Linked DNA regions of Homo sapiens: all the other regions are linked to region 2. The links come from fine-mapping of genetic effects on gene expression. A gene starts in region 2. Each other region holds a variant in brackets. All regions are shown on one strand. Distances are from middle to middle.

Evidence for each region.
Region 1: its variant is fine-mapped to the expression of FASTKD2 in tibial nerve (GTEx, PIP 0.97).
Region 3: its variant is fine-mapped to the expression of FASTKD2 in whole blood (TOPMed, PIP 0.95).
Region 4: its variant is fine-mapped to the expression of FASTKD2 in monocytes (TOPMed, PIP 0.96).
Region 5: its variant is fine-mapped to the expression of FASTKD2 in whole blood (INTERVAL, PIP above 0.99).

Annotation. Positions count from the first base shown.
Region 1 is chr2:206,710,203-206,715,309 of GRCh38, forward strand. DYTN (dystrotelin) reads right to left here. Exons shown (of 12, transcript NM_001093730.1): 2 at 322-396. Among named protein-coding and RNA genes, the nearest start is that of DYTN, 5.6 kb to the right of the region's middle. The variant A/C (reference allele first, on the strand shown) is at 3,077.
Region 2 is chr2:206,763,574-206,768,680 of GRCh38, forward strand. It overlaps FASTKD2 (FAST kinase domains 2), which reads left to right and starts at 2,033. Exons shown (of 12, transcript NM_001136193.2): 1 at 2,033-2,174; 2 at 3,071-3,897. The coding sequence starts at 3,121. MDH1B (malate dehydrogenase 1B) reads right to left here and starts at 1,755. Exons shown (of 12, transcript NM_001039845.3): 1 at 1,677-1,755. The coding sequence starts at 1,698. RefSeq lists enhancers at 1,534-1,673, 1,924-2,303.
Region 3 is chr2:206,800,549-206,805,655 of GRCh38, forward strand. No RefSeq gene overlaps it. Among named protein-coding and RNA genes, the nearest start is that of MIR3130-1, 20 kb to the left of the region's middle. The variant G/A (reference allele first, on the strand shown) is at 2,973.
Region 4 is chr2:206,853,750-206,858,856 of GRCh38, forward strand. No RefSeq gene overlaps it. Among named protein-coding and RNA genes, the nearest start is that of MIR3130-1, 73 kb to the left of the region's middle. The variant T/C (reference allele first, on the strand shown) is at 2,659.
Region 5 is chr2:206,740,306-206,745,412 of GRCh38, forward strand. MDH1B (malate dehydrogenase 1B) reads right to left here. Exons shown (of 12, transcript NM_001039845.3): 10 at 749-799. Among named protein-coding and RNA genes, the nearest start is that of MDH1B, 22 kb to the right of the region's middle. The variant A/G (reference allele first, on the strand shown) is at 2,601.

The sequences.
Region 1 (5,107 bases), 53 kb before region 2:
ATTTTGTGTCCATATTGGTATCCTGAAAAGGAAACCAAAAACATTTTCTAGAAGAAGCCAAGTGGAGAAAATATTTAAAAAATTAAAAATCCTCATGCACAATTATTTCTATTGCTCATCAGCAAAACTACACATGGTTTGCCTGCACGTGATGTTTTCCCATCCTCCATCTTCTCTGTCACGAATGGGCTAAATGCACAAGTCCAGACTTCCAGAATCCAGTAGTCAGCTGCATGGGGGGAGTGTTTGTTTTCTCTATGAATTTTACATCGCACATCAAGCTCAGATTATTTCAAATATTTCAGGAGAGCCTATACTTACACTGGCACAGAGTTTGCACTGATTGTAATTTGAAGGCTGTTCTATAAATGGAATTCTCAATACTATTAAGAGCATCTGTAAAGAAAACGTAAAATATTATGAATAAAGTCTCTCTCATTATATAAATCCCACATCATGGAAGGAAATCCTAGAGATCATGTAAGCTTACTTTATTTTGCAGGTGAGGAAATTAAGGTTTAGAGCTCTTTTTTTTTCTGTAAACAAATAAAAATAGACTTACATTATTCTAGGGCTACAGGTGAACCTAGTTCACCTTCTCAGTCCACCAAAAAGTGACGGAATACTCCATCAATCTGTCCACTTTTTATATAAAAAGTCAATGGCCTTTGAAACAAACAGGATAAAAAAAACTACATGTAGAATATAAATTCAAGTTTGCAAATATATTCTAGTTATATGTGGACACATGCATTTATGCATAAATGAAAAAGACTCCAAAGCTATCCATCTACTCATGCATTTAGCCAATATTTATTGAGCCCTTAGTATATGGCCCTGGCATGATTCTAGGCCCTTGAAATATAGCATTCAACTAGATAGATAAAGATGGCCACCCTTGTGGAGCTTAACTTCTAGTACCAACCACCAAACTGTTAACAGTGGACATCTCTGAGTGCTTGAATTATTAGTGTTCGCGGTTATTTTCTCTCTGCTCAATATTACCTAAATTTTCTATAAAAAGTGTAGGCTATTTTTATAATCAGAAAAAGAATTATTAATATACCTTCTTTTGAGAGTTACCATCACCAATAGCAGTACAACAATAGCGAGCATTCCTGAGCACTGAGTGTGTACTTGCCCATTTCACAGTGTAGAGGAGAGGAGAGAGCTCTGGAGCCAGCTATACTTAGTTCTGTTCCTTCCTTTTTCCTTAAAAGTAGTTACTTTTGATCTTCAGTTTCTTCTTCAGATAAATGGGAATTATAACACATTCCTCAAAGGGTATTTGCACATTTTAAATAAGAAAATGTAGGCAATATACTTCCTAAATTGTTTCTCTTACCTTTCTTTTTTTTGTTGTTGTTTTTTGTTTTTTTTACTTTTCTTTTTTTTATTATACTTTAAGTTTTAGGGTACATGTGCACAATGTGCAGGTTAGTTACATATGTATACATGTGCCATGTGGGTGTGCTGCACCCATTAACTCGTCATTTAACATTAGGTGTATCTCCCAATCCTATCCCTCCCCCTTCCCCCCACCCCACAACAGGCCCCAGTGTGTGATGTTCCCCTTCCTGTGTCCATGTGTTCTCATTGTTCAATTCTCTTACCTTTCTTAAGGACCCACAATTTTAAATTTTTTCCATTGATGCTCCAAATTTGATTTTTATTTAATTTAAGAGACTATAACAACGTTACAACGGAGCTTTCTGTTGCTGAAGACTGAAATGATCAGTCTTCATATCTAGAAAAAATAACTATAGAGTAGATCTCCCCATTTAGTCATATTATCTTTAATGTTATTCAATAAAGTTATATAAGATCATACACATTAATAGCTTAGTTTATTTTAGGCAGTTAAAATGGCCTGTTCTAACTGCTTATTGTTGGTATAAACCAGTAGACCTTAAAGTATGGTTCCTGAACCAACCACAGCAGCAACATCGCCTGGGAACTTGGGAGAAAAACAATTTCTAACAAAAGTCTAAGAAGTCGCCAACGTCGGAATCTAGGGGTGAGAATCTAAGGAATAACCTGAGTCTTAGCAGGCCCCGGGGGTAAATCTGATGCAAACGAAAGTTTGAAAACTACTGGTATAAAGGGAATTTATTGCTTCTGCTTTTTATGACTAGTTTGATTATTGAAGGTCTTTGTGACAGCAGTTTCAGTGGAGTCATGGGGGTCAAAATCAAACTGCAGAGGATGGAGCACTGAGTGTAAGGTGAGGAGAAAACATACAACCAGACAACTTTTTCAAGATCTTATAACGTGAAGGGAAGACAAGAGAGCCACAGCTAGAACAACACATAAAATCGAAAGTGGTTTTCAAAGGCAGGAGAGATTCCAGAATGTATGGGTCAGGGAGGAGGAGCCAGGAGAGACAGAGTGGGGTTGAGGACTCAGGAAGTAGGGGATCCAGGTAGTATATGATGTAGCAAAGTCCCTCTCAGAGGGCACATGTTCCCTTAGCCACCCAGCATCCATTTTTCTTTCTCCAGGTGAACCACCTCCCCTAATCTGAGTCCATGAAATTCCAATAGTGTCAACTGCAACTCTCCCACTTCCATGGGGGCATGTGGCCCAGGCCCAGCCCATCAGTGAGAGCACCGTCGCCTTCCCCAGAGGTGGGTACATACCAAAGTCAGGCAAGTAATGTTCCAATGAATCTGGGTTCAAGGACTCTTGGTTCAAGTTATCAGGGAAGCAGAATTTTTTTTCTCGACTTGAATTTGGAATTGTAGATTGGAGCAGAAATCACCCTCTTGTCAGGCTGTGTAGCTTGCGAATGAAATCAACACACAAGGGTGAGCAGAGATGAACTTAGAGATGGAGAGAAACCGCTTCCTGGTGACAATGTCCCAGCCCAGGAAAGCTAGTCCTTCCTTTGGTTATTTAATTTATTTTCATTTGTTTTAATTGACAAATAAATATTGTATTATTTATCATGCACAGCATGTTTCAAAATATGTGTATCTCGTGGAATGGCTACATCAAGCTAATTAACATATACATTATGCCACATATTTATTTTTTGTGGTAAGAATATTTAAAATCTATTCTCTTAGCAATTTTC[A/C]AGAATATAATACATTGTTATTAACTATAGTCACCATGCTGTACAGTAGATCTCTTGATTGGGTTATTAATTTTATAAGGTAACACAGCCTTTTTGAGGTAAGTTTTCTGCCACAATCGCTGAAGTATTGCTAACTGCTCCCATCGCTGTGGTAGAGAGAGGGAGGAAAATGCACAGGTGAAGGAATTAGCTTTGGTAAGAAGCCATCTCTCATTCCCTGAAAGGAAGCATAAAAGGAGATGATGCGCTGGGGGGATGGCCATGTCTGAGAGCTTCTGTTTTCTTTGTAAAGTTGAGGGCATGTTCACACATTTAGAGTTAGGAGGACATGGTGGGGTTGAGGAATAGTGAAGATTTGCACAGTTATAGTGAAGGGTGAAAGAGGAAATCAGTCACAAACTTTGGAAAGAACTGCCAAGCAGTGGTGCATCTCTAGTGTTTCCGGTGATAACAAATTCCAATTAGAGTTTACACCCAGAAACGCTCATTCTGAGGCAAGGATTTCACACACAAGCAAGCTCTGAAGCCAAGACTTACTTGTATTTATGGTGCCCAGAGGAAGAAGTCTTGAGGAAAATGAAACTACTTTCAAATGTAATGTCAGCCGATTAACATAAAACTCAGGCAATGAGGAGTTAGCAGGGTGTGCTGGGGAGTTTTGTGACTAGAAACACAGCCGAGTCTCCAGCCTTGGAACAGGCCCTGAGCAAAAATGAAACAAGGAACTGCTTGGTGTACTTCTTTGATTCAAACATATGTGGCAAGGTCATTTGTGGTGACATTCATTTTTGTCTCGTTCTTGCAGCAAGGGGAGAATTTAAAGAATGGAAAGGCAATGTTTCTGTGTTCATCTTGTAAGTCTAAGCTATTTTCACTCCTCTGGGAGATCTAACAGTGTCTCTGTGTTTAAGGGCCACTCTTTTTTCTTTCTTTTCTTTTTTGTTTTGAGACGGAGTCTCGCTCTGTCACCCAGGCTGGAGTGCAGTGGCGCAATCTCGGCTCACTGCTCCACCTCCCGGGTTCATGCCAATCTCCTGCCTCAGCCTCCCGAGTAGCTGGGATTACAGGCGCACACCACCACGCCCGGCTAATTTTTTGTATTTTTAGTAGAGACAGGGTTTCACCGTGTTAGCCAGGATGGTCTCGATCTCCTGACCTCATGGTCTGCCCGCCTCGGCCTCCCAAAGTGCTGGGATTACAGGCGTGAGCCACTGCGTAAAGACGGCTCTTGAAGTCACCTCCACTCAGGCCTTTGTATGAAAAGATGGACAGGCCCATGAAAGAATTAATCTGGAATTTTCCTGGAGGCGGAGAGAGGCTGATGCCTGGACAAGAAGTTGGGAGATGTCTGACTAAGATTGGGTTTAGGAGGTGTTTCCAGGGCTGTCCTTCCTAGCAGACCCCTGAGTGGGGGAATGAATGGCTGCATGGTGTAGCCAGGGAGACCAGCCACAGGTGTGACAAGGACTTCTGTGTCCAGTCTTGACATGGAGTCCCATGTCTTCAAGTGGAATCCAAAGCCAAAGGCAGAGAGCATCACAAGTGGTGGTCACAATGGACTTCAGTTAGGGCCTTGACCAGTTAGTTGTTCAAGATAGCAGCCTTAGAGCTTTCTGTTTGTCTCCCAGGGATAGTTCCCTCCCAAACTTAACTCAGCCTAAATTTCTTTTTTTTTTTTTCTCGTCTTATTCAGCGTTTCATTAGTAGTGCTAATGTAGCTACTTAGTGCATGTTGAAGGAACAGATGTCTAAGATACTAAGCAGCATTCCAGGCAGAGAACACAGACTGGGCAAAGGCATGGAGGATGGATAAGATGCTGAGCTGCTCACTGTGGCTGGAATGGGAGGTCAGGAATGAGGTAGAAACAGGTGGGAATCAGGGAACAGGCAGGTAGGAACAGGCAGGAGCTATTAGGTCCTTCTGGGTCCCAATCCTACTTTTTGGGGGAGGAACTGTCAAGCCCTGGGTCCTAGGTTTGGATGGATGGAGAAACTGGGTGCCTGTCCAGGATTTCCCAGCCTCCTTGGGCT
Region 2 (5,107 bases):
AACCTTTCATGTACTCTGGATAAAGTCTAAACTACTGAATGTGGCTCAAAAGAATCTACATTATCTAACTCTAGCCTCACCTTATGAAATTCTCTTCCTTGTACTATTTGCTTCAGTCCTAATAAACTTATTTCAATTTTATACTTATTTTATATTCTCAATTGTCACCAAACTAGTTCTCCTTGCTCTAACCCCACTCCCAGTTACCCATGCCTAAATTGCTCCCCTCCTTTCTACCTCTTCTCTGTTAGGTAATTCATTATCATCTTTCAGGTATCTGCTTAAAATCTCTCCCTCTGGGAAACCCTTACCTGATTAAGTAAGGTCCCTGCTATCGTTCCTATAGAACCCTGCCCTGTCAGTGTCATACATGCAACATTCTCTGTGTGTTTTCCACTGACTTCCCACCATGTGGTTAGTCAGTGTTCAAAAATATTCTTCTGGGCCAGGTGTGGTGGTGCATGCCTGTAATCTTGGCACTTTGGGAGGTCAAGGTGGGCAAATCACTTGAGCGTAGGAGTTCAAGACCAGCGTGGGCAACATGACAAAACCCCATCTCTACAAAAATACAAAAATTAGCTGGGCATGCTGGTGTATGCCTGTAGTCCCAGCTACTTGGGAGGCTGAGGTGGGAGGATCGCTTGAGCCCAGGAGGTCAAAGCTGCTGTGAGCCACGATTGCACCACTGCAATCCAGCCTGGGTGACAAAGTGAGAGCCTGTCTCAAAAAAAAAAAAAAATCTCCTGTGGATGGTAGATGTCAATTGTGTTCAATGCATCAAAGAGATCAAATAAGTCAAAGACTAAACAGCTTCTATAAAAGTCAGTGGTGACTTTGGTGACAGCAGTTTCTGTCAGGAAGCAGAAGTAGAAGCCTTCTTCCAAGACTGATTGGAAGGCAGAACTGGAGATGGAAGAGCAGTCTACTCTTTTAAGAAACTTTACGAGGAGAGGAGGTAGGTACCATGGATTGTTGTAATAAAAGCCTTCTCAGTTGAGTCCTTGCTGTCAACCAGCACTTTCAATCATTCTCTCCGTTGCTGCCAAGACAGGCTTCCTAAAATGCAAACTCATTAAGACTACTCTCCTGCTTAAAATTTTTCTATAATTCCTCATTGCTTTCAGGATACAGTTCAAACACCTTTGCTTGACCTACATGAAATGCAAGGACCTGGCTCCTGCTCCTGTTGTAGCCCCAGGTCCTGTCACGCCCCACATATCCAGATCTTCTGTTAGGCCAGGAAGCTTCCTGCCTCTCTGCTTTTATTTGGAATAGCCTCCTCAGCTCACACCTTCACAACTCAGCTCCTGTAATACCTTCCCCAGCCAGTTCCTTGTGTCCACCTCTCCCTCATCCCCCAAACCCAGATTAGGAGTCTACGCTCCCAGAGGCCTGTGCAGGTCTCCTTCATCGCGTTAATCACACCGTATCAAAAGTACATGTTCTGTGCCCCATGAGACTGAAAGCTCCTCTAAGGCAGGGATATGTTTCCCTCCATTGCATCCCCAGTGTCCCACAATGCTTGGCGCACCGTCACGGTCCAGTAAAAAACTTTGAATAAATCTATAGCAAAGCATGGAGCGGTCCGTATAGAGGCTGCCAAGCCGAGCGGCCATGGGAGGTGAGCTGTTGTCGGCGTTTTGAGCAATCTGCGGGCGGACGCGGGGATCACTCACCCGCGATGACGAATTTGGCCATGGTCGAGAGAGACTCAGAGGCAGGGACCGCGGCTTCGCGGTTTCCTGGCAACCACGCAGCCAAGGGCAAGGCGCAGGCGCACTACAAAGTCTGGCGCCCAGCAGAGGTTAGGTGTTTAAAGTTAGGACCTGAATGGGTTACGTTGCGATACACGATCAAACATCGCCCTTATAAGCTCTGTGGTATCCCCGAGCCCCACTCCTGTATGCAGGGAAATTAGTCATTCTCCTTGGTAAACTTTCTTCAAGTAAGTCCTTCAGCTACAGCCGCGAACATATGCTTTTTGACCTTTGAGGGAATCCGTAAGATCTCGTGAGAAGCGCAGCTTCTCGGGGAAGCTGTCATGGCTGCTCCTGTACGTAGTCACGGTCTTGTGCTCTAAGGTGAGTGGAGGACGAGCTTGGGCTTAGCGGCAGCCCGTATCACATCCTAGACTTTTTACTTCGAGGAGAAGAGTCTCACGAGTTGTCCTGGAAGTAAGTTTAAAGGAGGTGGGTTAATGCTGGGCGGCCCAGCTGCGGAAGGACAGGCTCTTGAAGTTGGTTCTGGGGTCTGGTGAGGCTGGCTGGTTGTATAAGATCTTCCTCTTAAGCGCAGGCCACGTGCAGACATCGCTTTCGTTTTCTGCTTCTTCCACTGAGCCGTTCTACCTGCCCAGGTCCCTATTCTTGATGGTCTGGGTTCGGCCGTTGCTAAATCGTCATGTTGAAAATGATCTATCAGCCGGGCGCGGTGACTCACGCCTTGGGAGGCCGAGGCGGGTGGATTACCTGAGGTCAGGAGTTCAGGACCAGCCTGGCCAACATGGTGAAACTCCGTCTTTACAAAAAATACAAAAATTAGCCGGGCGTGGTGGCATACGCCTGTAATCCCAGCTACTTGGGAGGCTGAGACAGGAGAATTGCTTGAACCTGGGAGGTGGAGGTTGCAGTGAGCCAAGATCGCGCCACTGCACTCTAGCCTGGGGGACATAGCAAGACTTTGTCTCAAAAAAAAAAAAAAAAAAAAAAAAAACAGAGAAGAGAAAAGAAAATGATCTATCAATGCTAATCCCCTAATTTTCACCGAGGACATTTCCATAACAATGCCAACAAAAGTCTCTCCTACAGAGAAAGCTTTATGGAACGCTTTTGCACCAGAAAAATCTCATTAATACAATGACTACTTCCAAAGTGACCTGGCTTCTTTGAAACTGGACACATTGTGGTAGATTGGAGGGAGCCCACATTGGTAAAAAAAACTTTTACTGTTTTATGTAAATGTTTAATGGCTCCATAGGTTCCCCATTTTCTCTTCTGTTAAATGCATTTCATTTCTTTAAGTAAAAGTTTTGTTTTAATTTTTATTCTTTTCATTACTTCTTCCCCTACAGGAAAACGACAGCACGTGTTCTTTTTCACTAGTAGAAGTGACGTTGGTTTCATGTTGACAACTTTGAAGCCATTTGGAAGTGTTTCAGTGGAGAGCAAAATGAATAACAAAGCGGGCTCCTTTTTCTGGAACCTTAGACAATTCAGTACATTAGTTTCAACAAGCAGAACTATGAGGCTATGTTGTTTGGGACTTTGCAAACCAAAAATAGTTCATTCAAACTGGAACATTTTAAATAACTTTCATAACAGAATGCAATCAACTGATATCATTAGATATCTCTTTCAGGATGCATTCATTTTTAAATCAGATGTTGGCTTTCAAACAAAGGGCATAAGCACTCTAACAGCCCTTAGAATTGAAAGACTACTTTATGCTAAAAGACTGTTTTTTGACTCAAAGCAGTCTCTTGTCCCTGTTGATAAATCTGATGATGAATTGAAGAAAGTAAACCTTAATCATGAAGTCTCCAATGAAGATGTTCTTACCAAGGAAACAAAACCAAACCGTATCAGCAGTAGAAAACTGTCTGAGGAATGTAATTCCCTGAGTGATGTGTTAGATGCATTTTCAAAAGCGCCCACATTTCCTAGTAGCAACTATTTCACAGCAATGTGGACAATTGCCAAAAGACTGTCTGATGACCAGAAGCGCTTTGAAAAACGACTGATGTTTAGCCACCCTGCATTTAATCAGCTCTGTGAACATATGATGAGAGAAGCCAAGATCATGCAGTATAAGTACCTACTGTTCAGTCTTCACGCCATAGTGAAGCTTGGAATCCCTCAGAACACTATTTTGGTGCAGACTTTGCTGAGGGTGACCCAGGTAAAATAAAAAGGAGATTTAAACATGCATTTACTTGATTTAGAATATTTTGAAAGAATGAAGGGATATAGATATGTAGCCTTCTTAAAAGAGACTATCAAATGGAATGGTAGTTTCCTTTATATTTATTTCTGCATATATATTATATGATTTAGAGGCCTTAAGTTAGCTATTTTCTTCCTTTTGCTATGGAAATTTATGAAAGCCTTCCACATTTACCATCCCCAGGGTTGAGTAGTGGTGAAGAAGCTAAAGTGAGGAGAGATGCAAGATATACAAAGAAAGCCTGGGTAGTTGAAGAAGGAGAGAAGGGAAGGGGAAGGAAGAGAATTTAGTCCATGGTAGAATTGGAATTCAGGCCCAGTAGATGATACCTAAACTGATGAGCAGAATGATAGTGAAGGGGATGGTGTTTCAAGTAGAGAGGATTGCATGCCCTACTGTTCCCAGAGGAAAAGTTTGGCAAATTTGAAGAGCTGAAAGTAGTTTGGTGTAGCTGAAGCACAGAATGATGGAGTTGTATGTTTGAGTGGGTGGGAACAAGTTTTGTACATGGCGATCAAAGGAGAGGAGTGAGGGGCAAGAGGCTTAGGGGCAGAACAAGAGGCCAGAAAAATAGGAACCAAATCATAAAGAGCCTCTTACGGCTAGCTAAGGAGTATGCATTTATCCTGTAGGCAATGGGAATCCGTTGAAGAATTTTAAGCAATGGGTTGACGTGCTCAAATTTGTATTTTAGATCACTGAATGAGTGGAAGATGTATTGGAAGAAGGTTAAAATTGGATGGAGGGAGCCATTTTTAGTCTAAAGCAAGAATGTCAGTGTCCTGTTTAATGTCACTGAAATGGTGCCAAATGTAAGGAAGGAAGGATTAGCTTGTTAATCATTTATGTTTTAAGAGTGTACACTTCTGACGTATAAACTCAGTGATAATGAAGTAATTTCTTAGCCAGGTGTGGTGGCTCACACCTGTAATCCCAGCACTTTGGGAGGCCAAGGCAGGAGGATCTCTTGAGCCCAGGAGTTTGCGACCAGCCTGGGCAACAAAGGGAGACTCCATCTCTACAAAAAATACAAAAATTAGCTGGGTGTGATGTACTTGCCTGTGGTCCCAGCTACTTGGGAGGCTGAGGTGGGAATATCACTTGAGCCTGGGAGGTCGAAGCTGCCGTGAGCCATGATCGTGCCACTGCACTCCAGCCTGGGTGA
Region 3 (5,107 bases), 37 kb after region 2:
AAGCTTCTGTACTTTTCTTATGTGGATGGCAGTGGCGAGGGGGCGGTGGCGGGTGCAGCTGCAATACTTAAAAAGGAATTCTATTGTGGCAATAAATGAATATGGCAAGAAATGAGCCTGGCAAGAAATGAATGACAATGGCCCCTAGGTGGTGCTGAATCATCATGGAAGTGGAGGCTGGACACTTGGCATTTGCGGAGGTGACTTCCTTCTGGTTTGAATTTCAAATAAGAGCAGGACAGCTCCTTGGGATGTCTGGGAAAAAAGACCAGGCAGAAAAGAGTCTTTTCACTAGGAGCGGGTGCAAAATACTCTTGCCTGTGAGGCCTCTTCAGGTCTTCGGTTTGCTTTAGTTGGAAACAGGAAGCAGGGTCAGACCAACTTGTATTCATTTGCTGAGAGCTGTTGGAGCTGTGACTGATTCTGACAGATCAAATACCATTTATAACACTCCTGTGGGGGACACTTTAACCGGGGATGTTAGTGCTAGCCCCTCCAGAGACTAAGTATGTTTGCGGGATGTGAGGACCCCTGGAATATACAAATATGCATGCTAATGAATTTTAACAAAAATAACCCATTATTGTTTTCTGTGCAACACTGTGCATTTCTCAGCTACACCTGTCCTTTCCAACCTCAATTGCTGGGCAACCTATTTTTCTTTCGGCATCAGAAGCGATAGCATCTGGGAAGTGAATCTGATGAATTCTGCCTGGCAACCAACATCTTTCCAACTGCCAGATCCTGGGGTAAGAAACTGAGATGCTCTGGAGCTGGTTCAGGGCCAGAACGCACCTGTCCTTGAGGGCCTGGTGATGGGGGAAGGAGGCTGGCCAAATGCAGAACTTCTGAAAGTCCACTTCCTGAGTTCATTTCCATTTTGGCAAAATGTGACTTAGGTTTCCAAGGGAAGGAGTTTACATGTATTAAAATGTCTCAGTGGCTGAAGTTGCTTTGTGTCCTCCGCTAAAGCCTCCTACCATCGATTCCCATCTCCAACACGTTTTCAACTGTGGTGTTTTGGGAAGGTAACCATAGCAACTAATCTTATTCAGAAATGACTGGACCTAGGCAGTAAACGGCAAGGTAACCCCATGGTAATTTTCAGTGGAAACCCAATATTGATTCTAACAATTGTACAGGCTGAGCACTGTTAGCTATTTACTAAGCACTGTTCTCCTTTAAGACATTTGATTCTCACAACCCTGTGAGGTAGTCATCATTATCCTCTCTAACACTCGAGAGTTGGCCCATGGTTGTGCAGCTAATTAAATCTGCTGGACCCTGAAATCAGCTTTTTTCTCTTATACAGACTCTGCCTTCTAAGGAAAACTGGAGAGACGCCTTCCGGTGTCTATTTTGCAGGTAGTAAAAGTGAGTCACAGAATCATGGAAATTGTTCAAGGCAACAGCAGAGCTGCAGATCCTCTGCCCTAATCCCAATAATGCCTTTCTGTTATATGTAGAGCTTTAGAGCTCTCAAGATTATCTCATCTATTGCTCACAGCGGGTCTTTGTGATGATTATATCTATTTATAGATGAGAAAATTGAGACATGAAAAGGTTAAATGGCATTTCTCAAGGTCACCAATTACTATATTGAAGAACAAGAAATAAAATCCGTTTCTAATTCTCTGCTGCCTTACTAGATGTGGTGCTTTAAAAATATTTCATCCACTTATCTGTTTCAGAATGTATCAGATACATTAGGTACCATATATTATGTGTGGTTGACAAGATTTTCAGGATTAACTTTAATTCACCAGAGATAAACTTTATATCTAATGAGATCATCTTTATGGAAATACTGTTTATGAGTATAAATGTTTTTATGTGAGAATTATATATTCTAATGAATCTTTAAAAATCCATACTTCATGTGCTATAGATGCAAAATCATAAATTTATCTCTGTAAATTGCCTAAGATGATGGTAGAGAAGGGTGTTATGCTTAAAATTTTTAGCGCTGTAAAAGCTACAATAGTCTCAAGAGAAAAATGGTCAGTAATCTTTAACAGAGCCACCTGCCATGCATGGGGCCCAGTGTATGGAGAGGAAGGGTGGGGGCATAACCCCAATCCCACAGGGTATGTTCGGTGGCTTAGATTTGTTCACTCAGTGGGGTAGAGGCACAACTCATGAAGTGACACCCAGAAGCCTGGACTCCAAGTTCCTTTGAGAGCTTGATGTAGACCCTTCAAACATTGGTCGGGGGTGGGAGTGCGAGGTGAGAGTAGGAGGTGTGGGAAGGTGACTGGAGATAGAAGCCTGACTCTTGCCTGGAAAAGCCCAAAGGCAGAAGGCTGCCTGGAGCTGCTGCTGATGGCAGAGCAAAAACAGGTGGCTGTAAGAAGGCTTTTGGCTTCCAAGTTTTGCAGGGGAGAAGGGATGGCATGGATGCATAATATTTCCTGTGGATTAAACGAATGCTGAAGAAACTAGCAGGCTTGAGTCATCCTGAAAGGCACCTGTCCTAGAGGACGTCCTGCCAAAGCTCAGAAATCTCAGCAAAAAGAGGCTGTATGGGGTCTTCACAGTCAGCCTGAGAGTGCCTTGTGGGGGTCAGGTCAGGGAATGCTGTGGTGTAAGAAAGACACGCCATGGAAAGAGAGGTGGGAGTAGGGGTGTCTCTTAAGAACCCACAAAAGTCACTCATGTGAGGAGGAGCCAGCACTTGAGCATCTAGCACACAAAGGGCATCCTCGCAGACTGCAAGGTCACCAGTGAATAGACCCATTTACCTCTAGTCCCTCCTCCCCACCTGGCCCTGGAGATGCCAGAGGCAGCACAGTGAGCGGGGCAGGAGGAGCAGAAAACAGAGCAAGGGGGGCAAACAGCAAAAGAAGATTCCACAGCCTCCTCCCCCTGCTGCTCATTACTGAGCTGGAAGAAAGGAAGGAATCTTAGATTGGGTGAGAGCTGCATATTTTGAGAATAGATCAGGTGATGAGCTTTTTAATACCTTAAAATGA[G/A]GCTCTGCTAATAGCCATGTGCAACCAAAAATACTCTGGCATATGCCGGAGATGGCCTCTCTGAGGTGGGAAGGGAGAGCTGGCAGAGCCAGTGTGATGGGCAAGGGAGGGAAGAAGATGGAGCTGTTTCCAGCCTGCTGGAGCTACTGACCCAGCCTGTTCAATAAACTAGTGTCCCCTAGTAAGAGCCTTCCAAGTTAATCGAATGAACCCCTGGATTTCTTCTTGCTCTGTCACCCCCAGCAGTGAGGCTCACTCTAGAGTTTAGATCCTGCGTGTTCTTTTTCTTTTAACATCTGGTAGAAAAAGCACCCCCTGGCCTCTTCCACTTGGTTTCACATTTTCACTTTAGAGTTATCACCAAGTAGAAAAGCCACTTTTCCCTAAACTGCAGGCAAGAGCTGCAAACTCCCTCTAGGTGACTTTGTTGGGCCTTCAGAAGGTTAGAATCTGAAGGGAGTAAACATTACAATTAGGAAAAATTATCTCTTACAATAAAACATCCTCTCATACTGTCTGTAATAGCATATAATGTTACATGGGCCCGAACAATATGTATTCATCTGCAATTATTTATGCTCACCAGGGAAAAATTATTTGTTTATTGTTTTAATCATGATTAACCAGCAGTGTAATGATAGGGTGATAATGATAACAACGTGAAGAATGAAATGTTTGAGGTGCAAATGGAAGGCAAGATGCTAACCCTAGATGCTGAAAGTTTCTGGTAGAGCACAGAGGCAGGAAGTCTATTCTTTAGTGGTGTGTGTGTGTGTGTGTGTGTGTGTGTGTGTGTGTGTGTGTGTGTGTGTGTGGTGTGTGTTGGGGGAAACGCATGGTATAGGGGGTACATTTATCCTGAACAAGGACGAGATAGGAGTGGCCCAGTGCTCTTCTGACTTCCAAAGCCTGCTTTGCATTCAAGTTCAGGAGCTTAGGGCTCTCAAAGACTTCTTTTTCCTTCCATTCCTCCCACAGAATGAGAACAAATCCTGGTTAGAGCTACAGGGATCTTCCCAGCTTGTGAAAATTCCCATGTAATTGTTTCTGAGAGGCTGTCTTTCTTTCTCAGAAGTTCCAGAGAATTCCAGCTTCCCAAGGGCTGACCTTGAGTCATCCACACACCCGTTTTCCACCTTCTCAGCTCTGGAACAGGGTTTGGTTCCGTGGCTTATGACTTTCCCAAGGTTTCTGAGCTCGGTCCAGCAAGTAAAATATGTATCCCCTTCACTTAAGGAAGCAAAATTTTGTGGGCAAATTCTCAATCATGGCAAATCTTCATCTTTTGTATCTGGCTTTGGTTTAAACAAATGGTTAAAAGTACCTCCCAGCTAGCTTTGGTGAATGAAGTTGATAAAACTAAGTTACATTCCTTTTGATTAAATATAGGCATGAAGAGTTAATTTTTCTCTTCAGATAAGAACTAACTCAGAAGGCAGTTCCAGAAGAAAAGTGCATCCAAATATTTTGAACAATGACAGCATCATGGGAATAAGTGTACGGCATGTCTCCCGGGAAGAGTATTTGAAGCCCAAACCAACAGATACCACATAAAATACAACAATAGCCACTATCTTTTAAGCATTTTCCTCAAAGGTTGATTAAATGAAACACTTCAACTTTGGGGTAAGTATTATTAATGCCCACTTTATAGATGAAAAAATTCAGACTTAGACTTATCAGCCATGTGGCTTTGAGCAAGTAATTTAAATTTTTAGATTTGATTCCAGAGCCATATATCATATATGATATAACTTTGTACCAACCAAACAGAAAGCAAGTCATTTTCAAACAAATGCTTTATTGATTTTCTCTTATTTATATACTAGGATATGAAGTTAACAATACATTTTACATGGGTACCTTTCTGTCAAGTTGGAATGAATTTCCGCATGAATAAGAAAGGCCCATTTTCTCTTCATTTTTGTATTTTGAATAGTAGAGAGGCAAGGGAGAGAGAAGGAGGGCCACTGGGCTGAGAATCAGGAGACCTGGGTTCCAGCCACTGCCTCTGTCATTTAAATTCTCTAGGATGCCTGTTATTCCAGCACTTTGAGAGGTGGGCAGATTGCTTGAGCCCAAGGGTTCGAGACCAGCCTGGACAACATCGTGAAACCCTGTCTCTACAAAAAAAA
Region 4 (5,107 bases), 90 kb after region 2:
TAGGCAAAGGTCAGCACATAGAGATATGAACCAATACAACCCTGCCAAAGGCCCTCCCAAAGTAAGCATATGTCTCTTTATTTCCAGCAGAGGAAATTAACAGCACCAGACTTTCTTCATTATTAACATGAACAAATGGTGGCTTCGGTCTGTGATCTATAGCTGTAAGATAAGCTGCTATGCTGTATCCCAGGAATACACTGGAACCTGGTTTAGGGACGCAAGGTGGGGACTCAGGATAGCTGAATTGCTTTTGGCCACTCTTAGATTCCTAATCTCTGGTGTGACGTGACACTTCAGAAAAGTGGGCCCTAGTTTTCTCCACTGCAAATTATGAAGTGAGATTAGATCAATGATTTATATCAGCAGTTGCACATTTTTTTTCTTATAAAGAGCCAGATCATAAATACGTAGGGTTTGTGGGCCATATGGTCTCTGTAACAACTACTCAGCTCTGCCATTGTAGCTTGAAAGCAGCCATAGACAATATAAAAATGAATTGGCATGGCTGGGTTCCAAAAAAGCTTTATTTGCACGTGCTGAAATTTGAATTTAGTACAATTTTCATATCTCGTGAAGTATTGTTCTCATTATTTTTTTCAACCATTGAAAATGTGTAAAATACCTTCTTAGTTTGCACGTTGTAAATAGCAGTGGTGGGCTGGATTTTGGCCTATGGGCTATTATTAGCCAATCCCTGTTCTCTATGGTTACATCAAAGTATAAGGTTTCTATATATGCCCTATTTCCTTACAGGAAACATAGAATGGTTTTTAAAAGTTCAACAATAGTATATTTTCTAATGTTTGTACATTTAATAATTTAGTTTTAAACACAGCCAACCTGTATGGATAAGACTTATGTTGGTTATAAGGGTGCTTACTTTTTGGTAACAAAGATTTGTGGAAAAACTATAGGACCAAAATTAATTAGCTTCCCTGACACTCCTACTATGACTACAGATACTTTAAGGAATTACTTTATCAATTCTTATGTTGTCACACAGACGGATAAGAAGTTACAGTATTAATATTTTTAAAACTTTTTTTTTTAAGTGAGAAAGAGCTGAACAGATATTTCTACATCCATGTTCTGACAGCATTATTCACAATAGCCAAAAGGTGGAAATAACCCAAATGCCCACAGGTGAATGGATAAACAAAATATGATATATACATACAATGAAATATTATTCAGCTTTAAAAAGTAATGAAATTATGATACATGTTACAACATGGATGAACCTTGGAGACATTATCCAAGTGAAATAAGACCGGTACAAAGAGACAAATATTGCATGAATCCACTTAAATGAGAACCCAGAGTAGTCAAATTCATAGAGACAGAAAGTAGAATGGTGGTTGCCGCAGGCTGAGGGAGGGAAAAATGGGGAATTGATGAATGGGCACAGTTTCAGTTTGGAAAATGTAAAAGTTCTGAAGATGGATGGTAGTGATGGTTGTACAGCAATGTAAATGTACTTAATGAACTTAAAAATGGTAAAATGGTAAAATGTATGTTATGTCTATTTTACCACAACAGTTTAAAAAAGGAGAATAATAGAACAATGAAATAGTTGACCTAGCATCACACAAGACAGAAAGAAGATCGGAGTCAGCTGCAGGACTAGGACCTGGGATAGTAGTGCAGGGCTCTTTGACCACAAGATGACTGTGACAACTTTAAGATCTTTCTTTTGAGCCCTTTGTAATGGGCACTTTGCAATATTATTTCAGAGAATCTCAACTGACATTTTACAGAGGAGGAAACAGAGGTTCATTTGTCAAGGAACCAACAGGCAAGGTTGGGAAGCAAACCCATGACTGTGCTTCCAAAGCCTTTGTCTTGACCACCACAGAACACCACTTCCCCGAAATTCTGAAGCCATCTATCTTGGAGTAGGGAAGCCTCTGCCACTGAATGCAGGTTTTTCAGTGTAAATCATGGAGCCATTGCTACCCCTGAAGGCGAGAGGCTCCCGTAACTGCGCTGCCTGAGTCTGGGCCCGCGGCACAGGACCTGGTGCTGTTGGTTTATGGTAAAGCAGGAAGGTGGTGCCTCGTGCTGGCAGATGATGCTGCGGGCCAGGTTCGTTTGTGTCTTCACTCTCAGAAGCATGGCTAATACAGCCTTTTAACTCACAGATTCCCACCTCAAATGTTTACATGACACCACTAAATAAAAAATATGTGCATGCTCTACCTCCCCCACTTGACTGTAAGGTAAAGGCAGGAGCTGGGCCTCTTTAATATTTATACCCTCCATAAGCTCACCCTGTGCTAGGGTTTGCATCAAGTAGGCACTCAGCAAATATTTGTTGAATGAATGCATAAATGAATGTTAAATCATCTGCCTCCAGATTTTCCTTTTGTTTCCAATTTTCCCTTCCATCTGACATATGCAAGTGCCTCCCGTGTCCCTTTCACAGATATTACAGATGCCCTCAACTATTTTTTGTGTTCTTCTGGCCTGCTTTTTCTCATTGCTGCTGCAACAGACTGAGGGCCAAAAATAGAAACCTCCTTGACAACTTTGCAGAGGACTTACATTCCTGATTCCTAAGGTAGCAACACTGACTCTGTTGGAGCAGGATGGGAATTTCATGACCTGTCACATATTTGATTTTGCCTGATTTTTACAAGGGATAAAAGTTTTCCC[T/C]GCATGGTGGTTGATGCAACTTGCAATCACCCTTGGAAGTTAGGGTTTGGGACAAATAGAAGAATGTCATCAAACAGAGGAATGTCACCACTTGTCTTAAGGATGCTTCCAAATTCTTGAAAAGGAGACAGAATTTCTTTTCCTTTCTCTTTTTCTCCTTCACTTCTTCCCTCCCTCTCTCCCTCCTTCCTTCTTATTTTATTTCTTTCCCTCTCTGGATATCTCTGGTTTATGGCAGGGCCCATGACTCATATGTGTTTTCAAGCCAGTGCATATTATGAAGACACAAGACAAGAATGTGTATAAACACATACTCTGCCATAATGCTGATTTCTTTGGATTAAACTGGGGGAAAAAACAGCAACAGACACTGCCTCAGTCTAGAATTATCTGTAATCCATATACATCAGCACATGGTTTCCAGTATTGTGTTATGGGGAATTAGAGAAGAGACCTGGCTCCTTCTCTCAGGGATACTACAGTATGCTAAGAAGATAGGACAGAGATAGAGTTAATAATACAAGTTAGCATCTAAGTGATAAGTGGGTACTAATAGAATCTAAATAGTCACTCTTAATAAAAATCATTTCCATTTATGCAGTGCTTGCTAAATTCTAGATACCATGCTAAGAACTTTATATCCTTAGCTCTTTTGAATTCCAACCATAACCCACAGCCTCAGTACACAGGTGTGGGGAGGCAGTGAAGTGCAGTGGTTGGTGCCAGGCTATGGAATCAGACTGCAAGGTCCTGGTCCCCGGTGTCTCTTGGCATTCCCTACTGCAGAGAGAGAATATTCCTTCCTAGACATTGAGTCATTGTGCCAGCGTCTGCTACCAGCCAGGTGACCCCTTGAGCGCAGATGCCCCTCTCTCTGTTTCCATTTCCTTGTCTATAAAATAAGGATAATCACCGTGGAACTTACCTTATAGAGTTTATATTAAATGAGATAATGTAAGTATAGTGCTTAAAACAGTGCCTGACATAAAGTCAATGACCTATAAATATTAGATTTTATGACCGAGGCTCAGAGAAGTTAAATAACTTGCCAGTGTTCACTCAATAAATTTATATCAGAATGAGAATTCACACTCAAACCTGACTGATCCCAAGGCCCTCTGATCTTAACCACTTCACAGTAATGGTTGTTCAGAGAGCAGTAAATCATTATGGATTAGTGTAAAAAGGGGGAAGATTTACAGAGAATGTGAGAGAGTTTGAAGGATGGAGTAGAATTTATTGAAAAAGAAATGGTGACTCTAGGCTTCAATGTAGAAAAATCTAGAGTTAACAAAGTGCCTCTCCCCATTTCCTTTGCCCAGCAACTACCTCTAGATTTCCTTTTTTTCCAATGAAGAAGACACAGCAGCTAAAATGCTCATCCCTGGGGATGGACAAAAATGCTTCCTGCCCTTCCCTAAATCTCCTGCAGTGGTGCTCTGGGTCATGGTTTCTTTTGTTTTATTTTAGGTTTTACTTGCTAATGTGCATGTGAATTAAAAAAATCTAATATTTTAGCACTTAATTATGTAACTCATTTATTTAAGTTAGAAACAATGTTTGTAAATGTGGTAGGAAGGGTATACCAGCTCTTCTCTCTTTGAGAGAACTAGGATCCTCTCAAAGTTAAGGAAATAGGGAAACTCTGTGTATATATGTATGCATTATTTTTCCATCTCCATCTAGGAACACAACAGAAGTTGGGGAAGCAACCACTCTTGGCATTAGAAGCTACAGGAGACTGGCTAGCACAAATTCAATCTTTGTAGTTCTCAGAGATTTGCAGATTATATTTTACATTTTCTAACCTTAGCATTGACCACAATAAGGGTCTCTCCTTCCTTTTCCATGTTAACCCTTGTAATATGCTTTGGCTATGTCCCCACCCAAATTTCATCTCAAATTGCTCCCATAATTTCCACGTGTTGTGGGAGGGACCCAGTGAGAAATAATTGAATCATGGGGGGCAGTTTCCCCCATACTGTTCTTATGGTAGTAAATAAGTCTCACAATATCTGATGGTTTTATAAGGGGTTTCTCTTTTTGCTTGGCCCTCATTCTCTCTTGCCTGCTGCCATGTCAGATGTGCCTTTTGCCTTCTGCCATGATTGTGGTACCTCCCTAGCCACATGGAACTGTGAGTCCATTAAAATTATTTTTCTTCATAAATTACTCAGTCTCGGGTATGTCTTTATCAGCAGTGTGAAAACAGACTAATACACCTTGGGCTCAGAGTCTTTAACAGACTGTGTGGAGAGAGGATGGATCACGTTGTCGGGGGTTGGGGATGGAACTTAGGGAAGGGAGGGGAAGGAAGCAGCCTTAGCAGGGCCAAAGGACTGTGGGAGAAGAAGCACAACTGTGGGAGAGGCTGTGGGGAGCCACTTCGTGCAAACAGAGCAGGGAGGAGGAAGCCTCTAGCCCCTACTTGGGTGAACTCCAGGAGGCC
Region 5 (5,107 bases), 23 kb before region 2:
TCTAACAATAAAGTGAGCTAGAGAAAAGAAAATGTTATTAAGAAAATCATAAGGAAGAGAAAATATATTTACTATTCATTAAGTGGAAATGGATCATCATAAGGTTCTTTATCCTCATTTTCTTTATGTTGACTAGGCTGGGGAGGAGCAGGAGGAAGAGGAGGCATTGGTCTTGCTGTCTTAGGGATGGCAGAGGTGGAAGAAAATCTGCATAAGTGGACCTGCACAGTTCAAACCCATGCTGTTCAAGGGTCAACAGCATATGTGTGTGTATTTATGTAATACATTATAAATTATATATATGATGAGATATATATACACATAATGAGACAAAAAATCCCAGATTTTCCCTGTTAAGGAGAATTCTAACTTGGTTCTCTCGGTCTTTTCCTCTCACCTGTGTTCTGAGGAAGATGCTATCTTGCCCTATTGGTTATTTTGGGCTTCATAATAGAGAATTGAGAAGAAAAGGGAAAGGTGAGAAGCAAGAGATACAAGGGACTGGAGCTGAAGTTAGAGTATTTTGGGAGAGTTTGAGGTGAATATGACAAGGAAGCAGTTTTAGTGCTTTTTAAAAAAAAGTTGACATTTTTATGCCCATTTCAAAGTGTTTGTGAAGCATATGAAAAGAAGCAGTTATTTAAAACTTGCTTTGGTCGCTAGACCATAACATTATTCTCTAACAACTGGACAATATGAGTCACGACTATTAGCAATATAGACATTGTTTATAACCCCACTGACTTACCATCTGACATAGCTAGATTTTTTTCTTCATCAGGGACCAGATCTTTATGTCCTGAAATCAAAATTAAATAAAACATGCTGGATTTAGAATATAACCAACAACCTAACTAGGTCATGAGATGTTCTGAGTCAATGTTTTTCAAACTTCAGTGACTATGACCCACAATAAAAGACACATTTTACATTATAGTCCAATGTGTACATTTGTGTACATATTAATGAAACAAAAAAATACATGAAATAATACTTATCTTTTTCTAATTGTGATGGTTAATACCGAGTGCCAACTTGATTGGATTGAAGGATGCAAAGTATTGATCCTGGGTGTGTCTGTGAGGGTGTTGCCAAAGGAAATTAACATTTGAGTCAGTGGGCTGGGGAAGACAGACCCACCCTTAATCTGGTGGGCACAATCTAATCAGCTGCCAGCAAATATAAAGCAGGAAGAAAAATGTGAAAAGGTGAGAATTGCCTAGCCTCCTAGCCTACATTTTTCTCCCATGCTGGATGCTTCCTGCCCTCAAACATTGGACTCCAAGTTTTTCAATTTTGAGACTCAGACTGGCTCTCCTTGCTCCTCAAGCTTGCAGACAGCCCATTGTGGGACCCTGTGATTGTGTAACTTAATACTCAATAAATTCCCCTTTATTTATACATAAGTATCCTATTAGTTCTGTCCCTCTACGGAACCTTGACTATACAGATTTTGGTACCAGGAGTGGTTCTAGAGAAACAAAATATTAAGGATGGAGTTCTTTTGTTGGTTTTCGGGTTTCTGGAGTTGGCTGCTTAGTATGATTCGACCTCCAAATGCTAAGGACCTAAGGACTCTACTTTTAATAGTATGGAGAACACTGATAGTCCTTGGCATGAACTGTTTAATGAGTTATGCAAAATAAATGAATTTGACACTCCTGATTCACTGCCCATGAGAGGCAGGGAGTTTAGTGACTCTATACATAATACCTTTGACCATATGTGGTGAACAAAGGAACATAATGAAGCTGGTTAGCTGCTCCTAAGTTCAGTGGACAAAGTGATGAAAGAAAATGATGAACTCAGAGATTCTGTCTCCTGGCAGATACTGAGCCTCAAATCTGCAAAGATTGCCCTGAGTGAGTCTTATCTCCTGTAGAGAAAGAGCTGAAATTGTGGAAAAACAGACACAAGCTCTTATTATGTGAGTGGTTGAACTGCAACGAAAAGTGTATGCACAGCCTTGCCAGGTGTCTCCTGTTAAAGTGAGGGCATTAATTGGAAAAGAATGGGATGCTGCAACTTGGAATGGAGACGTGTGGGAGAACCCTGATGAAGCTGGGGACACTGAGTTTGTAAACTCTGATGAACCTTTTTTGCCAGATGGAACAGCTTCCCCATACCCAGTAGTGGCAACATCCCCTCCCTGACCCATGCTGTCATCAGCCTTTCCACCTTTGTCTGAGGAGATAAACCCTGTGCTGCCTGAGGCAAGAGTGACGGCCTCCCCTGAGGCAGTTGCCAGGGAAAATGTTGATTCTCCTCAGTAGCCACCCCTAACACCCTTGTTTGCTTCTAGACCTATAACTAGACTAAAGTCTTGGTGGGCCTCTAGAGGTGAGGTTGAGAGTATGACCCATGAAGAAGTGTGCTACACTCAAAAAGAGCTGCTTGATGTCTCTATTTTTTTTTTTTTTTTTTTTTTTGAGACAGAGTCTCATTCTGTCATCCAGGCTGGAGTGCAGTGGTGCAATCTCAGCTCAAGCTCCACCTCCTGGGTTCACGTCATTCTCCTGCCTCAGCCTCCCAAGTAGCTGGGACTACAGGTGCCTGCCACCATGCCTGGCTAATTTTGTTTTTGTATTTTTAGTAGAGAC[A/G]GGGTTTCACCATGTTAGCCAGGATGGTCTCGATCTCCTGACTTTGTGATCTGCCCACCTCGGCCTCCCAAAGTGCTGGGATTACAGGTGTGAGCCACCACGCCCAGCCGATGTCTCTAATTTATATAAACAGAAATCTGGAGAACAGGTATGGGAATGGATATTAAGGGTATGGGATAATAGTTGAAGGAACACAGAGTTGGATCAGGCTGAATTTATTGACTTGGGCCTACTAAGTAGGGACTTGGCGTTTAATGTTGCAGCTCAGGAAGCTTTCTACTCTGGTCTCATTTCTGCCCTCTCCATTGCACAAAATTGCTCTCATTAAAGTCACAAATGACCTTTGTCATACATCCATTGGGTATTTTTCAGGTATCATTTTATCTGACACACCAGTAGCATCTGACAGTGTAGAACAGTCCTTGTTCTTGAAACACCCTCTGCCTTCAGGTCTTTTACATCATCAGATTCCAGGGACTTATCCTGACTCTCTGACCACCCCTTTCTCATGGTCCTCTGTCAGTTGCTCCTGTTCTACTTAACCATGACAGGCTAAGTTCCTCCAGGCTTTTTTCTCTTACCTTCTCTCTAGACAATCTCCACCATACTGATAGCTTCATTTCTATTTATGAGGCAACAACTCCCCATTTGGCAACTGTAGTCCAGATCTTTCTGAGCTCCAGGAAGTATGCAGTTCTCCATGTGACATTTCCATTTTAGATATCACACAGGTATTTCAGAATCAAAATGTAAGAAATGAAACTCATGCTTTTTCTAATCTGGCACCATGCTTCTTCCTCTTCCATCCACAGGCGTGCATGCACACACACACCCCTCCCACATTCTCATATTTTCTCTCTCTCTCTCATTCTTTTACCATTTTCCCCTTATCAATAGTAAATCTGCCCAGTTGTTCAGCCAGAAGAACCCTGGGATTCACCAAAGCCAATCAGATTCATCAGCAATTCTTGATATTTCCACATCCTAAATATCTCTCAAATTTCTACTGCCTCTGGTCTTGGCTGTATGCACTCCCCCTCAATACCAGTCTTTCTGCAAACAGCCTTGCCTTATTCCAGGATGTTTTTCAAACTAATCCCACAACTGACCAGGTTCTCTCCATCTAGAAATCTTCTGTAGCTCTCACATCTACTCCTCATGGCTGTATCTCTCAGCTCCATCTCTTCTGGCTTTGGCCACATGAGCTTTTCCACAGTTTTTCCAAACAAGTTGATATGTACTTTCCTGCTTCAGATTCTTCCCTTCTATCCGCAGGCATGAGCTCTGACAGCACAGCAGCCAACATTTACTCCTCCCACGCACCACAGTTGCAGTCATCTATATAATGTGTGGCCAGCCTCTTGATGGACTGCAGGTTCCCAGAGGGCAAGATCAGGTCTATCTCATTCACCTCTGTATTTCCAGCTCCTAGCACTGGCTTATAGTTGGTACTGCACACACATTAGCAGAAGGAAGGAATATTGGGCTCCAAAAGACACTTGACTAAAGCCCTTTGCATAAATAAATTGATTTATTTCTACATGTATATATCCATACCTAAGATGAGATCATCTTTAAGGCAAAGAAAAGATGTCAGCCCTCCCCTATTTCTTATGAGTGGAGAAAATACCAATAAGAAAAATAAGCTTCTTGAAATTTGTTGGCTTTTAATAAAGTTATCTAAAAATAAATCTGGTGTTGTGAGTTGAATTGTGTTTCCAAAAAGATATGCTGAAGTTGGCCAGGCATGGTGGCTCATGCCTGTAATCTCATCACTTTGGGAGGCTGAGGTGGGTGGATCACGAGGTCAGCAGTTTGAGACCAGCCCGGCCAACATAGTGAAACCTCGTCTCTACTAAAAATACAAAAATTAGCCAGGCATGGTGGTGTGCACCTGTAGTTCCAGCTAATCAGGAGGCTGAGACAGGAGAATCGCTCGTACCTGGGAGGCGGGGCTTGTGGTGAGCCGAGATGGCACCACTGCACTTCAGTCTGGGCAACAGAGCAAGACTCTGTCTAAATAAATAAATAAATAAATAAATAAAATATATATATATATGTTGAAGTCCTAACGCCTGGTACCTATGAATGTGATCTTATGGGAAATGGAGTCTTGGTGGATATAATCAATTTAAGATGGGTTCAGACTGGTTTAGGGCAGGTCTTGAATGCAATGACTGGTATCCTTAGAGAGAAAGAGAGACTTAGAAACACAGACACACACAGAGGAAAGATGGACATGTGAAGAGGGAAGCACAGGTTGGAGTGATGCAGCAACAAGCCAGGAATGCAAGCAGTGCAACCCAAAGCTAGAAAAAGCAAGAAGGAATTCTTTCTCAAGCCTTCAGAGAGAGTGTGGCCCTGCTGATACCTCACATCAGGTCTTCTAGTCTCCTGAGCTGTGAACAAGTAAATTTCTGTTGTTTTTAAGCCATCCACTTTGTGGTAATTTGTTATGGTAGTCCTAGGAAATTAATAAATATGTTACCTACAACATTTATAAGATC